Linked DNA regions of Homo sapiens: region 1 is linked to region 2. The links come from fine-mapping of genetic effects on gene expression. Tissue or cell type: whole blood. Region 2 holds a variant in brackets; the other region holds the start of a gene. All regions are shown on one strand. Distances are between the middles of the regions.

What was found. PIP is the estimated chance that this variant, and not a neighbour inherited with it, causes the effect.
Region 1: it holds the start of GSTP1, and the variant in region 2 is fine-mapped to the expression of GSTP1 in whole blood (TOPMed, PIP above 0.99).

What each region holds. Positions count from the first base shown.
Region 1 is chr11:67,579,539-67,587,538 of GRCh38, forward strand. GSTP1 (glutathione S-transferase pi 1) reads left to right here and starts at 4,274. Exons shown (of 7, transcript NM_000852.4): 1 at 4,274-4,306; 2 at 4,596-4,631; 3 at 4,926-5,032; 4 at 5,147-5,234; 5 at 5,600-5,703; 6 at 6,566-6,673; 7 at 6,851-7,115. The coding sequence starts at 4,306. The coding sequence ends at 7,039. RefSeq lists silencers at 3,874-4,493, 4,044-4,186, 4,504-4,653 and an enhancer at 7,153-7,222.
Region 2 is chr11:67,444,387-67,452,386 of GRCh38, forward strand. GPR152 (G protein-coupled receptor 152) reads right to left here. Exons shown (of 1, transcript NM_206997.1): 1 at 6,915-8,000. The coding sequence ends at 6,926. Among named protein-coding and RNA genes, the nearest start is that of GPR152, 4.3 kb to the right of the region's middle. RefSeq lists an enhancer at 1,796-1,875. The variant A/G (reference allele first, on the strand shown) is at 4,627.

The DNA of each region.
Region 1 (8,000 bases), 140 kb after region 2:
GGAGTTTGCATTCAGTTCCTTTATTAGTACTCTCTGGAGTTGTTGAGGGGATGTCACTGCTGAACACTGACCCTGGTGCAGGCTAAACCGAAGTTAGCCTCTGCTACCCTCTGCTGGGTGAGGCACTGGGGAGAACAGTGGGACTGAATGGGGCGGGCTTTCTCCCTCCCACACTTCCCCTGGAAACACCCAGCACCAGCACATTAGAACATGGGGAGCCACCTTCCCCAGCGCTGCTTCCCAAGGTTCGGAAGGGGAAACTCTGACCTCAAGCTCTGTTTGAAGAGCGATAGCAAAGGGGAGAGGTTGGCTGTGGTTTGGTGGTGCTTATCTCCTTCCTTTGCTTTGAAACCACAGGCTGGCATACTACCCGAGAGAATGACCAGTGCCACCAAGGGAAGGGCACAAGCTCACTGGTTCCAGGGGAGACATCTCAGGGGACAGGAACATCCCCTGACGCTGAATGAGTGCAGCACACAGACGGAGAATACACACAAGAGAAATCATGAGGACATGAGAGAAGGCACTGGCAATAGGAAGTTACAAAAAGCAACAAAAAGAAAGAGTAGATATAAAAACAATAATCGAAGAAAGCCAACAACAGATGGGATGAATCATACGAGGTATGCGACTCATGGATGAAGAGGTGAGTGATGAGATCAGCTGGGGAACTCTCTCCCAGGAAAGACAAACCAGAAGAAACACAAATGACATCGAAGTGGCCAGGCGCAGTGGCTCACGCCTGTAATCCCAGCACTTTGGGAGCCCGAGGCAGGTGGATCACTTGAGGTCAGGAGTTTGAGACCAGCCTGGCCAACATGATGAAACCCTGTCTCTACTAAAAATACAAAAATTAGCCAGGTGTGGTGGCAGGCACCTGTGATCCCAGCTACTCAGGAGGCTGAGGCAGGAGAATCACTTGAACCAGGAAGCAGAGATTGCAGTGAGCTGAGATGGTGCCAGTGCACTCCAGCCTGGGCAGTAGAGTGACAGCCTGTCTAAAAAAAAAAAAAGGCAGTAAAGTGATAGGAGGATAGATTAGAAGGGCCATTTTCCAGATAGTGCAAGGAAGAAAGAAGAAGAAGAAGAGGAGGAGGAGGAGGAAGAGGAAGAAGACGGAGAAGAGGGCATCTCAGAAGAAACAATGGAGATACATTTCTCAAAACTGAAGAAAGATGACCAACCTCAGACCGAAGGGCCAAGAGGCCAAACCAGAGAGACAGCTTGGCAAGCCAGGAAGAGCACCAAAGCTAGACAATTAGAGTGAAATTAAAGAAAACCCAAGGTGACAAAAATTTAAAAAGCTTCCTTGTGACCTCAGTCCATTGGTGAAAATTTAAAAAAAAAAAAAAAAAAAAAAGGACAGCCTGGGCAACATGGTGAAACCCCATCTCTACAAAAAATACAAAAATTAGCTGGGTGTGGTGGCACATGCCTGTAGTCCCAGCTATTCGAGAGGCTAAGTAAGGCAGGAGGATCACTTGGGGCCAAGAGTTCCAGACCAGCTGCGGCAACATACATGTTGTGGGAAGTCAGGCACCCCGAACGGAGGGACTGGCTGAAGCCATGGCAGAAGAACATAAATTGTGAAGATTTCATGGACATTTATCACTTCCCCAATCAATACTCTTGTGATTTCCTATGCCTGTCTTTAATCTCTTAATCCTGTCATCTTCGTAAACTGAGGATGTATGTCGCCTTAGGACCCTGTGATGACTGCGTTAACTGCACAAATTGTTTGTAGAGGACAATTGTTGTGTGTTTGAGCAATGTGAAATCTGGGCATCTTAAGAACAGGATAACAGCAATTTTCAGGGAACAAGGGAGATAACCTTAAAGTCTGGCTGCCTGTGGGCTGGGCAGGACAGAGCCATACTTCTCTTATTACCGCAAACAGGTAAGAGAAATATCGCTGAATTCTTTCCCCAGTAAGGAATATTAATAATTAACAGCCCTGAGAAAAGAATGCATTCCCAGGGCCGGGCCACTGAAATGGCCTCCCTGAGAGTGCCTGCCTTTATTCAGAAGTAGAAAGGGATGAAACACGCCCTAGTCTCCTGCAGCACCCCCAGACTTGATAGGATTAGGAAATTCCAGCCTGGCAAATTCTAGTCAGACCGGTTCTCTGCTCTTGAACCCTGACAGTGCGTGCACAGTGGGACCTGGAAGTTCATTAGTGATTCTAGTTTCGCCGTGACCTTCTGCCCTGTGATCTTTTGTCGCCCTTGAAGTATGTGATCTCTGTGACCCACACCCTGTTCGTGCACTCCCTCCTCTTTGAAAATTGCTAATAAAAACTCGCTGGTTTTACGGCTCAGGGGGCATCACGGAACCTGCGGACATGTGATGTCTCCCCTGGACACCCGGCTTTAAAATGTCTCTCTTTTGTACTCTTTCCCTTTATTTCTCAGGCCAGCCGACACTTAGGGAAAATAGGAAAGGACCCACGTGAAATATTGGGGGCTGAATTTCCCCCGATAATAAGTCTCTTAAAAAAGACTTTTAAATGAAATTTCTTTGTTTTTTAACTTTTATTTCTGTTTTGGGGGTACATGTGAAGGTTTGTTACATAAGTAAACTCGTGTCTTCGGTGTTTGTTGTACAGAATATTTCATCACCCAGGTATTATGCCGAGTACCCAATAGTTCTCTTTTCTGCTCCTCTCCTTCCTCCCATCCTGCACCCTGGAGTCAACCACAGTGTCTGTTGTTTCCTTGTTTGTGTTATAAGTTCTCATCATTTAGCTCCCACTTACAAGTGAGAACATCCAGTATTTGGATTTCTGTTCCTGCATTAGTTTGCTAAGGATAATAGCCTCTAGCTCCATCCATGTTCCCACAAAAGACATGATCTAGTTCTTTTTAATGGCTGCATTAAATGAAGTTTTAAAGATACAACATAAACACCAACCTCTTCCCCACCACAAAAATCCCTTGCTGAATTTGATTACACTTAAATTAACGAGTTTTGTTTCATGAAAGACTCCTTGGACAAACTTGACAGTTGATGGAATAGGAGAAGCTGTCTGTCATGTCTAAAGCCAACAAGAGATCAATATCTAGAATAAATGGAGATCTGCAAATCAACAGAAAGTAGGCAGCAAAGCCAAAGAAAATAGCCTAAGGCACAGCCACTAAAAGGAACGTGATCATGTCCTTTGCAGGGACATGGGTGGAGCTGGAAGCCGTTAGCCTCAGCAAACTCACACAGGAACAGAAAACCAGCGAGACCGCATGGTCTCACTTATAAGTGGGAGCTGAACAATGAGAACACATGGTCACATGGCGGCGATCAACACACACTGGTGCCTGTTGAGCGGGGTGCTGGGGAGGGAGAGTACCAGGAAGAATAGCTAAGGGATACTGGGCTTAATACCTGGGTGATGGGATGATCTGTACAGCAAACCATCATGGCGCACACACCTATGTAACAAACCTGCACATCCTCTACATGTACCCCAGAACTTCAAATAAAAGTTGGACGGCCAGGCGTGGTGGCTCACGCCTGTAATCCCAGCACTTTGGGAAGCCGAGGCGTGCAGATCACCTAAGGTCAGGAGTTCGAGACCAGCCCGGCCAACATGGTGAAACCCCGTCTCTACTAAAAATACAAAAATCAGCCAGATGTGGCACGCACCTATAATTCCACCTACTCGGGAGGCTGAAGCAGAATTGCTTGAACCCGAGAGGCGGAGGTTGCAGTGAGCCGCCGAGATCGCGCCACTGCACTCCAGCCTGGGCCACAGCGTGAGACTACGTCATAAAATAAAATAAAATAACACAAAATAAAATAAAATAAAATAAAATAAAATAAAATAAAATAAAATAAAATAAAATAAAAAAATAAAATAAAATAAAATAAAATAAAGCAATTTCCTTTCCTCTAAGCGGCCTCCACCCCTCTCCCCTGCCCTGTGAAGCGGGTGTGCAAGCTCCGGGATCGCAGCGGTCTTAGGGAATTTCCCCCCGCGATGTCCCGGCGCGCCAGTTCGCTGCGCACACTTCGCTGCGGTCCTCTTCCTGCTGTCTGTTTACTCCCTAGGCCCCGCTGGGGACCTGGGAAAGAGGGAAAGGCTTCCCCGGCCAGCTGCGCGGCGACTCCGGGGACTCCAGGGCGCCCCTCTGCGGCCGACGCCCGGGGTGCAGCGGCCGCCGGGGCTGGGGCCGGCGGGAGTCCGCGGGACCCTCCAGAAGAGCGGCCGGCGCCGTGACTCAGCACTGGGGCGGAGCGGGGCGGGACCACCCTTATAAGGCTCGGAGGCCGCGAGGCCTTCGCTGGAGTTTCGCCGCCGCAGTCTTCGCCACCAGTGAGTACGCGCGGCCCGCGTCCCCGGGGATGGGGCTCAGAGCTCCCAGCATGGGGCCAACCCGCAGCATCAGGCCCGGGCTCCCGGCAGGGCTCCTCGCCCACCTCGAGACCCGGGACGGGGGCCTAGGGGACCCAGGACGTCCCCAGTGCCGTTAGCGGCTTTCAGGGGGCCCGGAGCGCCTCGGGGAGGGATGGGACCCCGGGGGCGGGGAGGGGGGGCAGACTGCGCTCACCGCGCCTTGGCATCCTCCCCCGGGCTCCAGCAAACTTTTCTTTGTTCGCTGCAGTGCCGCCCTACACCGTGGTCTATTTCCCAGTTCGAGGTAGGAGCATGTGTCTGGCAGGGAAGGGAGGCAGGGGCTGGGGCTGCAGCCCACAGCCCCTCGCCCACCCGGAGAGATCCGAACCCCCTTATCCCTCCGTCGTGTGGCTTTTACCCCGGGCCTCCTTCCTGTTCCCCGCCTCTCCCGCCATGCCTGCTCCCCGCCCCAGTGTTGTGTGAAATCTTCGGAGGAACCTGTTTCCCTGTTCCCTCCCTGCACTCCTGACCCCTCCCCGGGTTGCTGCGAGGCGGAGTCGGCCCGGTCCCCACATCTCGTACTTCTCCCTCCCCGCAGGCCGCTGCGCGGCCCTGCGCATGCTGCTGGCAGATCAGGGCCAGAGCTGGAAGGAGGAGGTGGTGACCGTGGAGACGTGGCAGGAGGGCTCACTCAAAGCCTCCTGCGTAAGTGACCATGCCCGGGCAAGGGGAGGGGGTGCTGGGCCTTAGGGGGCTGTGACTAGGATCGGGGGACGCCCAAGCTCAGTGCCCCTCCCTGAGCCATGCCTCCCCCAACAGCTATACGGGCAGCTCCCCAAGTTCCAGGACGGAGACCTCACCCTGTACCAGTCCAATACCATCCTGCGTCACCTGGGCCGCACCCTTGGTGAGTCTTGAACCTCCAAGTCCAGGGCAGGCATGGGCAAGCCTCTGCCCCCGGAGCCCTTTTGTTTAAATCAGCTGCCCCGCAGCCCTCTGGAGTGGAGGAAACTGAGACCCACTGAGGTTACGTAGTTTGCCCAAGGTCAAGCCTGGGTGCCTGCAATCCTTGCCCTGTGCCAGGCTGCCTCCCAGGTGTCAGGTGAGCTCTGAGCACCTGCTGTGTGGCAGTCTCTCATCCTTCCACGCACATCCTCTTCCCCTCCTCCCAGGCTGGGGCTCACAGACAGCCCCCTGGTTGGCCCATCCCCAGTGACTGTGTGTTGATCAGGCGCCCAGTCACGCGGCCTGCTCCCCTCCACCCAACCCCAGGGCTCTATGGGAAGGACCAGCAGGAGGCAGCCCTGGTGGACATGGTGAATGACGGCGTGGAGGACCTCCGCTGCAAATACATCTCCCTCATCTACACCAACTATGTGAGCATCTGCACCAGGGTTGGGCACTGGGGGCTGAACAAAGAAAGGGGCTTCTTGTGCCCTCACCCCCCTTACCCCTCAGGTGGCTTGGGCTGACCCCTTCTTGGGTCAGGGTGCAGGGGCTGGGTCAGCTCTGGGCCAGGGGCCCAGGGGCCTGGGACAAGACACAACCTGCACCCTTATTGCCTGGGACATCAACCAGCCAAGTAACGGGTCATGGGGGCGAGTGCAAGGACAGAGACCTCCAGCAACTGGTGGTTTCTGATCTCCTGGGGTGGCGAGGGCTTCCTGGAGTAGCCAGAGGTGGAGGAGGATTTGTCGCCAGTTTCTGGATGGAGGTGCTGGCACTTTTAGCTGAGGAAAATATGCAGACACAGAGCACATTTGGGGACCTGGGACCAGTTCAGCAGAGGCAGCGTGTGTGCGCGTGCGTGTGCATGTGTGTGCGTGTGTGTGTGTACGCTTGCATTTGTGTCGGGTGGGTAAGGAGATAGAGATGGGCGGGCAGTAGGCCCAGGTCCCGAAGGCCTTGAACCCACTGGTTTGGAGTCTCCTAAGGGCAATGGGGGCCATTGAGAAGTCTGAACAGGGCTGTGTCTGAATGTGAGGTCTAGAAGGATCCTCCAGAGAAGCCAGCTCTAAAGCTTTTGCAATCATCTGGTGAGAGAACCCAGCAAGGATGGACAGGCAGAATGGAATAGAGATGAGTTGGCAGCTGAAGTGGACAGGATTTGGTACTAGCCTGGTTGTGGGGAGCAAGCAGAGGAGAATCTGGGACTCTGGTGTCTGGCCTGGGGCAGACGGGGGTGTCTCAGGGGCTGGGAGGGATGAGAGTAGGATGATACATGGTGGTGTCTGGCAGGAGGCGGGCAAGGATGACTATGTGAAGGCACTGCCCGGGCAACTGAAGCCTTTTGAGACCCTGCTGTCCCAGAACCAGGGAGGCAAGACCTTCATTGTGGGAGACCAGGTGAGCATCTGGCCCCATGCTGTTCCTTCCTCGCCACCCTCTGCTTCCAGATGGACACAGGTGTGAGCCATTTGTTTAGCAAAGCAGAGCAGACCTAGGGGATGGGCTTAGGCCCTCTGCCCCCAATTCCTCCAGCCTGCTCCCGCTGGCTGAGTCCCTGGCCCCCCTGCCCTGCAGATCTCCTTCGCTGACTACAACCTGCTGGACTTGCTGCTGATCCATGAGGTCCTAGCCCCTGGCTGCCTGGATGCGTTCCCCCTGCTCTCAGCATATGTGGGGCGCCTCAGTGCCCGGCCCAAGCTCAAGGCCTTCCTGGCCTCCCCTGAGTACGTGAACCTCCCCATCAATGGCAACGGGAAACAGTGAGGGTTGGGGGGACTCTGAGCGGGAGGCAGAGTTTGCCTTCCTTTCTCCAGGACCAATAAAATTTCTAAGAGAGCTACTATGAGCACTGTGTTTCCTGGGACGGGGCTTAGGGGTTCTCAGCCTCGAGGTCGGTGGGAGGGCAGAGCAGAGGACTAGAAAACAGCTCCTCCAGCACAGTCAGTGGCTTCCTGGAGCCCTCAGCCTGGCTGTGTTTACTGAACCTCACAAACTAGAAGAGGAAGAAAAAAAAAGAGAGAGAGAAACAAAGAGAAATAACCATGGTCACTGTCCTGGAGCACCACACAGTGTATATAGAAGGAGAAAAGTCTCATAGAAACATGCTTTCTAGGCACAGCACGTGCCTGTCAGATGGACAGACTCCAGGATGGAGGGAAATGAGGGATTCTGGGAAGGAGGGATGTGAGGAGTTCCCTGTCCTGGGGGATTAGCTGAGTAGCTCTGAGCAGCCCAGGTTGGTGGGAGGGTCATTCTGCTTGGATGGGGGCTTTCCTGGCTTCCTGCTGACTTGTGAGTTTTGGTGCATCCTAGGCAAGCAATGACACTACTGTATTAGGATTCTCCAGAGAAGCTAAGCCAGTAAGATGCTGTAGGGCAGGCAAAATTTTATCTCTGTCCTTTTAGGGTTTTTTGGCTGGGCCTGAGAACTAAAGACATGAGCAAGAGAAAAGCATTCAAATTTATCTAGGCTGGGCATAGTGGCTCATGCCTGTAATCCCAGCACTTTGGGAGGCTGAGGCAGGTGAATCACTTGAGGTCAGGAGTTCAAGACCAGCCTGACCAACATGGTGAAACCCCGTCTCTACTAAAAATACAAAAATTAGCCAGGTGTGGTGGCGGTTACCTGTAGTCCCTGCTACTTGGGAGGCTGAGGCATGAGAATCGCTCTCTCTCTCCTGCCACCTTGTAAAGATGTGCCTGCTTCCCCTTCACCTTCCACCCT
Region 2 (8,000 bases):
CGACCTCCTAGGCTCAAGGGATCCTCCTGCCTCAGCCTCCCAAGTAGCTGGGACTACAGACACACACCACCACGCCTGGCTAATTTTTCTTTTACTTTTTGTAGAGATGGGGTCTCTTGCTCTGTCGCCCAGGCTGGTGTGTTTTTTGTTTTGTTTTGAGATGGAGTCTCGCTCTGTCTCCCAGCCTATAGTGCAATGGCGCGATCTCGGCTCACTGCAACTTCTGCCTCCCGTGTTCAAGCAATTCTCCTGCCTCAGCCTCCCAATTCGCTGGGATTACAGGTGCCTGCTACCATACCCTGCTATTTTTTTTGTATTTTTAGTAGAGATAGGGTTTCACCATGTTGGCCAGGCTGCTCTTGAACTCCCGGGCTCAAGCAATCCTCCTGCCTTAGCCTCCCAGAGTGCTGGGATTACAGTTGTGAGCCACCGTGCCCATCCAGAAAATAGCAGTGTTTATGGAGCGAGTGGAAGACCCAGGAGTCCCATTTTTCAGGGTAAACACCTGTGCATTCTGCTGAGCTTTCTTATTACAATTTGAAAGGGGGCCATGGCCAGTGAGTCCCTTGCACCTTGCCTTCTTTTCTCCACCATCTCCCTCGAAGGCCTGGAGATCCATTCACAGGCCTCTCTCTTTCTCTAGCCAGCGCCTGTGACAAGGAGCCCAGACTGGCCTCTCCAGACCCACCCCATCCCGTTCCACAGGTGGAATGTACCCCCGTTCCCTTAGGCCAGCGGCTCTGGGGCACCGGCTACTTCCCTTATTCTTTCCTTGAGCATCCACTGCCCTGGCTGACCGATGGCACCCTCCCTTTCCCAGAAAGAGATGGATGGAGGACGAAGCGGGGGAAGAGCAGAGGTCACAGGAGCCTTGTCTCTGGCTAAAAGAGGCCCCCACTGTGTGTCTGAGGGTGACCTCGGGCTTGTCTCCCATCTCATTCCCATTGCCACACCCCATTGAGGAAACAGGCACAGAGAGGTGCGGTGCCTGCCTGAGGTCATCCAGCCGGATGCAATCCCCATCGGCTTGGGTCCAAAGCCCTTGCTTTTCCTAGTGCTCTATAAACCCTGGGGCTAGAAGGATCATCTAGATCCCACCCACCTTCCTTCCCACCCCGAGGCCTGGGCACATCCTGTTCTCTCCATCTGGAAGCTCTTTCCTCAGATCCCAAAAAGGCTCCTTTCCCCACTCGATTCAGGTCTCTGGTCAGACATCACCTCCTCCTAGGGCTCTCCTGGACCATTCCTCACCCAGCCACTCTTTGGTCTTACTTGTCCTGACTGCATTGTTCTTTTTTTGGGAGACAGGGTCTTGCTCAGTTGCCCAGGCTGGAGTGCAGTGGCACGGTCCTAGCTCACTACCGCCTCACACTCTGGGGCTCAGTCCTCCCGCCTCAGCCTCCCAAGTAGCTGGGACTACAGGCACGTACCACCATGCCTAGCTAATTTTTATTTTTGTAGAGATGGAGGTCTCCTATGTTGTCCAGGCTGGTTCCAAACTCCTGGCCTCAAAAAATCCTCCTGCCTCAGCCTCCCAAAACTCTGGGATTACAGGTGTGAGCCACCACCCGGCCTGTGTTCTCCAGCGCCGCCTGATGTTGCATCAGGTGCTTATTGGTGTATTTGGTTTGTGTCGGCCTCCACCAGGATGTCAGCAAATTGAGGGGAAGGACTTTGCCTATCTTCCTACTGTATTCCCAGCACCCTGAACAAGATCCAACACTCAGTATGGGATCAAGTAATGTATGAGGAATGAATGAATGAGCAGCAGCCCTGAATGTAGAATTGAACAATACTCATAATCACAATTCTCAGGATCAATGTCTGGCACCTATGAAGGAGAGGGAAGGAAGGGCATCTCTCACCGGAGAAGGAGTGAGTCTTCCAGACGGCAGCAGGAGACTGGTCCCCTGGGATGTGGTAGGCAGGAGGTGTGTGGCTGGGCAATGTCTTGGGGCTGAGCCCACCTTCATGCCCATTTTCTCTAACACAAAACCCTCCTCCATGGACCACTGAGAGAACTCTTTTTTTTTTTTTTTTGGAGACAGAGTCTTGCTCTGTTGTACAGGCTGGAGTGCAGTGACGCGATCTCGGCTTACTGCAACGGAAACCACCTTTGCAAAACTATGACTGAGACAGTGAAAGAGATCTAACTTCACCAACCATCTTGCTTCTAATCTCTCTCTTTTTTTTTTTTTTTTTTTGAGACAGAGTCTCGCTCTGTCGCCCAGGCTGGAGTGCAGTGGTGCGATCTCGGCTCACTGCAAGCTCCGCCTGCTGGGTTCACGCCATTCTCCTGCCTCAGCCTCCCGAGTATTTGGGAATACAGGCGCCCACCACCTCACCTGGCTAATTTTTTTTGTATTTTTAATAGAGACAGGGTTTCACTGTGTTAGCCAGGATGGTCTCAATCTCCTGATCTTGTGATCAGCCCATCTCGGCCTCCCAAAGTGCTGGGATTACAGGCATGAGCCACCTCATCTGGCCCTTGCTTCTAATCTCTAAACCGTCCTTGTTCATTTCTGGGCATAGGCTGAACTAACTTTGGGAGAAACTTAGTTTATAAACAAAGATGGTAACAGCCCTTTCCCAAAGCAGACTTCCCTGTTGCCTGGGGACTAGATTGCCTTTGTAGGACTAACATTAGCCACAAGATTAGAAATTATGGTTTAGGGCCGGGCATGGTGGCTCACGCCTGTAATCCCAGCACTTTGGGAGGCCGAGGCGGGCGGACCACCTGAGGTCGGGAGTTCGAGATCACCCTGGCCAACATGGTGAAACACCGTCTCTACTAAAAAATGCAAAATTAGCTGGGTGTGGTAGCACATGCCTGTAATCCCAGCTACTCGGGAGGCTGAGGTAGGAGAATCGCTTGAACCCGGGAGGCGGAGGTTGTGGTGAGCTGAGATCACGCCATTGCATTCCAGCCTGGGGCAACAAGAGCAAAACTCTGTCTCAAAAAAACAAAACAAACAAACAAACAAAAAAGAAATTATGGTTTAGGAGTTATGCAGCTGGAGGCTATAAGATTCGGACCCTCCCTAAACTGCTCCTAAGGTCAGCGCTTGAGATATTTGCAGACCCTGCCCTTGATGGATCAGCTGGCACCACCAGATCAATCAACTGGCTCATCTGATCTTGTGGCCCCCACCCAGGAACTGACTCAGTGCAAGATGACAGCTTTGATTCCCTCTGATTTCATCCTTGACCAATCAGCACCGCTGGCTCACTGGCTTCCCACCACCCACCAAGTTATCCTTAAAAACTCAGCTCCCTGAGAATGCTCAGGGAGTCTGATTTGAGTAAGAATAAAACTGCAGTCTCCTGCACAGCCGGCTCTGCGTGAATTGGCTCTGTCTAGGCAGCAGGCAAGGCGAACCCCTCGGGGGTTTACACAACCCGCGCTTCCTGGGTTCAAGCAATTCTCCTGCCTCAGCCTCCCGAGTAGCTGGGATTACAGGCATGCGCCACCACACCCGGCAAATTTTTTGTATTTGTATAGATGAGGTTTCACCATGTTGGCCAGGCTGGCCTTGAACTCCTGACCTCAGTTGATCTGCCTGCCTTGGCTTCCTAAAGTGCTGGGATCACAGGCGTGAGCCACCGTGCCTGGCCTGAGAACTCCTCTTTATTCCGCAAAACCCTTCAGGCATTCTACCCCATCCTGTCCCACAGGTGGAGTCTGCCCCGCCTCCCTCAGGCTGGCGGCTTTGGGGTACCAGCTACCTCACTTATTCCTTTCTTGAGCATCCGCTGCTCTGGCTGACCAAGGGTGATGGTCTGCTGCTCTTTCTTCTGGACAGAAATCACGCATTATGGGTGGGATTCCCTTTGGGGTCCTTGGACGTGGGACTGGCCCACTCCCCAAGAGGTAGGGTTTGGAGTGTGGACCAGAGCTGAAAGCAAGTGGCTGATGCTGAGGTTTTATTTCCCAATCTGCCTGCCATGCTGAAAAGGCCCTGGGAGCCCTGCCCAGAAAAAGGGAGAAGGGCACTGCGGAGTGCCCTAATGGGGACCGAAGTCCAGGCCCTGCGCTCAGAGTGTGGACTGCAGTGGGATGGGGAGGGTGAGAACTTCCCTTGTGGAACAGGAGGCAGTGCCATGGTGGGGAGGCCTGGGGGGCAGGCGATCTGCCACTCAGGCGCTGGCCTGTGGCTCAGTATTGGTCCCAGGGCTGAGTGAGACCGGGGGGTGCCCACTGCTGTCATCAAATTAATGGCTAACAATCACGAACACTTCATAGGGATTCACGCTCCTGCAAGATGGGTACCATTATTATGATCCTCATTTTACAGACGAGGAAACTGAGTCCCAAAGAGGCTAAGAGCTTTGTGGAAGGTCACACAGCCTGTGAGTGGTGGAGCCAGGATTCAAACAACCCCTGATGGTCACCAGAGAGTGCACTCTTTTTTTTTTTTTTTTTTTTTTTTTTTTTAGAGACAGAGTCTTTCTGTGTGCCCAGGCTGGAGTGCAGTGGTGCGATCTCGGCTCACTGCAAGCTCCGCCTCCCAGGTTCACGCCATTCTCCTGCCTCAGCCTCCCGAGTAGCTGGAACTACAGGTGCCCACCACCACGCCCAGCTAATTTTTTTTTTTTTTGTATTTTTAGTAGAGACAGGGTTTCACC[A/G]TGTTAGCCAGGATGGTCTCGATCTCCTGACCTTGTGATCTGCCTGCCTCAGGGTCCCAAAGTGCTGGGATTACAGGCGTAAGCCACTGCGCCCAGCCAAGAGGGCAAACCCTTAACCTCACCCAAGTGGCTCCAGAATGGAAGGCTGGCCAGAAAGGCATCTAGCGAGTGCCCAAGAAATACTGGATGAATGAATTCAATAAATGCATGCCTGGCCAGAAATCTCTCTCCCATGGGCCTCAGTGCCCGCAATTCCATCACTACGACTATGCTTCTGGTATCACCACCACCACCGCCCACAGCACTTCCCATCCCTGGGCTCAGTCAATGATCAGAACTGCCAAGCCTGCAAGGGGAACATGATCACTCCATTTTACAGAGGAGAAAACAGGCTGAGAGGAAGGAAGTTAGGAACCAGAACCCAGACCTGACTGTATCACTCTAGGCTGCCTGCACAGCCTGCTGCATTTGGAAAATGCAGGTGTCTCTGGGAAGGGTTGCACATCTGACATCATTGTCATTTACACCTGCCGGAAAGGGCGTCTCAGTTGCTGAAGGTCACGATACTGAGCTAATGGGATAAGGGGGCATGACTGGAACACTGGGGGTAAGGAGAACGCAGGTGGGGTGGGTGCCAGGAGAGGACGATGGGTAGGAAAAGGGAAGTGGAGTGGGGGTTGGAAGATAGACCTTCAGCACTTCTAGTTTTTTCTGCAGCATCAGCAGCTTGAGAGGGAAGAGCTGGTTCTGCCCTAGAGAAGCTGTGTGACCTCTGGGAGCCTTTGCCCTTTCTAATTTTTTTTTTTTTTTTTGAGATGGAGTCTTGCTCTGTCGCCAGGCTGGAGTGCAGTGGTACAATCCCGGCTCACTGCAACCTCTGCCTCCCGGGTTCAAGCAATTCTCCTGCCTCAGCCTCCCGAGTAGCTGGGATTACAGGTGTGCGCCGCTACGCCCAGCTAATTTTTGTACTTTTAATAGAGACGGGGTTTCACCATGTTGGCCAGGATGGTCTTGATCTTTTGACCTTGTGATCCGCCCGCCTCGGCCTCCCAAAGTGCTGGGATTACAGGCGTGAGCCACCGCGCCCGGCCGTCTTTGCCTTTGCCCTTCCTAGACCCACTGGTGCCCTGAGCTCTGTGTGCTTGGACAACTTCCTATCTGTGCACTTGGGCTCAGACAGAGGGAGGCTGTTATTCAGGCAGGATCGGGGCCCTCTGTACCTGCAGCCCCCACAAAGAATCTTGTGCAGCCCTCCACGGGAGGTGGGGAGCAGGTGGATGCTAATTGAACTTTTAAATAGAATCAGACTTTGAAGTCCCCTGCAGGCCCCCAAGGCACAGAGGCGGCCTCCTGGTCTTAGGCCACCTGGGTGTCTACGGCCCAGACAGGTCACAAGATCCCAGATGCCTGGGCCAGGTGGTGGCTCTCCCCACTGCCTCCTCTATCCATCCCCAGCCTCTAAAGGGACATCCTGTATGTGGATGAAGGAGAAGAAAGGCTAGTTCACCAGGCCCCTGCGTGCGCCAGGCTCTTGTAATGCCTTACACACTTTCTTATTGCATCCTCTCAACAGCTGATGACACGGGAGCTCGGAAGGTGAAGTTGCTCCTCCAGAGTCGCTCAGCTGGGACATGGCAGAGCTGGATTTGAATCCAGGCTAGGCAGCTCTTGCCTCTTCTGGCGCCTTGCTGAGGGAGGCCCTGCCCCAGCCTCAATGACTGTTGGGGGAAGGGGACTAGTGGACCAGGCTTGGCCATGCCAGGCCAGCTTGTGGTTCACCAGGGCCTTAGGCTCCTGCTTGGGGCTGGTGGCTCCTGGGAGGCCCCCTTCTCTTCAGGGACTTTTTTGTTTCACGTCCTTGTGTCCAGGCCCGGAGGAGGAGAGGGAGGGAAGGACCAAAGGGAGGTCAGGTCAAGCCCGGGGAAAGTGCCCCCTGTTGTCTTCCTCCAGCAGGACTGAGGCCCAGGGAAGAATAGTCAGCGGGGTCTGGGGTGTTGAGGGACAGTACCCCGCAAGATGCCATTAGCTGCGGTTTGGGGGCTGTCGGGCGACTGTGTGTGTGTTGGGAGCAACCACAGAAAAGGCTGATGGCCGGGAGCAGGGGTCGCTGACATGGAACTGCCTGAGACTTCTGGCTGGATTGTTTCCCCTCCCTCAAGTCCTCCTTCCAGGCCTGACGGACTCAGCAGGGTTTTTAAGGACAAAGCTGTCGGCGGCTCCCCACCTGTCTGACTGGCTGGTTCCTCTGTCTGCCCTGGGCTCTTTCACTGCTCTGGTGGGCCTGCGTGTTCCTGGACCCTCACGTGGGGCCTGCGCCCGGGGCCGCCTCTGGCGGGGTGCTGCTGGGGCTTTCTCCTTCAGAGGCAGGAGGTGTGGCTGGGTCCTCAAGGGCCCCTGGGGTAGGATGCGAGGATGGGGTTGGGGAAGCTTCATCACAGGGACTGGGCACAGAACTGGCAGCAGGTGCAGGGGTCTGGACGTTAGTGTCTGCCTGTGGCTGGGCCACAGAATCTGACTGTGGCTGGGCCATGAGGTTCAGCTGTGGCTGGGCTGTGGGATCCGACTGTGGCTGGGCCGTAGGGTTCAGCTGTGGCTGAGCTGTGGGATCCGATCGTGGCTGGAGTGTGGGGTTCACCTGAGGCTGGGCCACAGGATCCATCTGTGACTGGGCCTCTGCCATCGGCTCTGGCAGAGTTGGACCCTCAGAATCTAGCTGGGTCTGTGGCTCAGTGGGCGTGAAGCTGCCCGGCCGCTCCTCGCAGAGAGCTGCCGCGAAGGACGAGAGCACGGAGCGCAGCAGGGTCCGGAGGTCGGCACTGGCCATGAGGCAGAGGAAGGGGCTGAGGCAGCTGTTGAGTAGGATCAGGTAGTCGGAGTAGACCAGGGCCTCCCAGAGCAGGTAGCCAGAGTAGACGTCCCACAGGAAGGCCAGGTAGAGCAGCTGGGCCAGCTGGTAGGGCAGCCTCAGGACCACATAGGCTGACAGAATGGTCCTGGCCACACGGGCGAAGCCCCGGCAGGCTGCGGGCTGCTGTTGGCGGTGGCAGGTGCGACAGGCTGTGGCCTGGGTGAGCACGTGGCAGACGAGCAGCAGGAGGAAAGGCAGGAAGCCCCCCAGGACCTCCAGCATCCTCAGCGACAGCTCCTCGCTGTCCCAGAAGTCCAGGCAGATGACCAGGTCGTACCACCAGACGGCAGCCTCGGGGAAGACCAGCCAGGGCACGCTGAAGAGTGTGGCCAGCACCCAGACACCGGCGCAGACCCAGAGGGGCAGGCGGACTGGGCGGTGCCCAGGGTACCAGTGTGGGCACAGCGCCAGCAGGCAGCGGTCGAGGCTGAGGGCGGCCAGCAGGAAGAGGCCGGAGGAGTAGGAC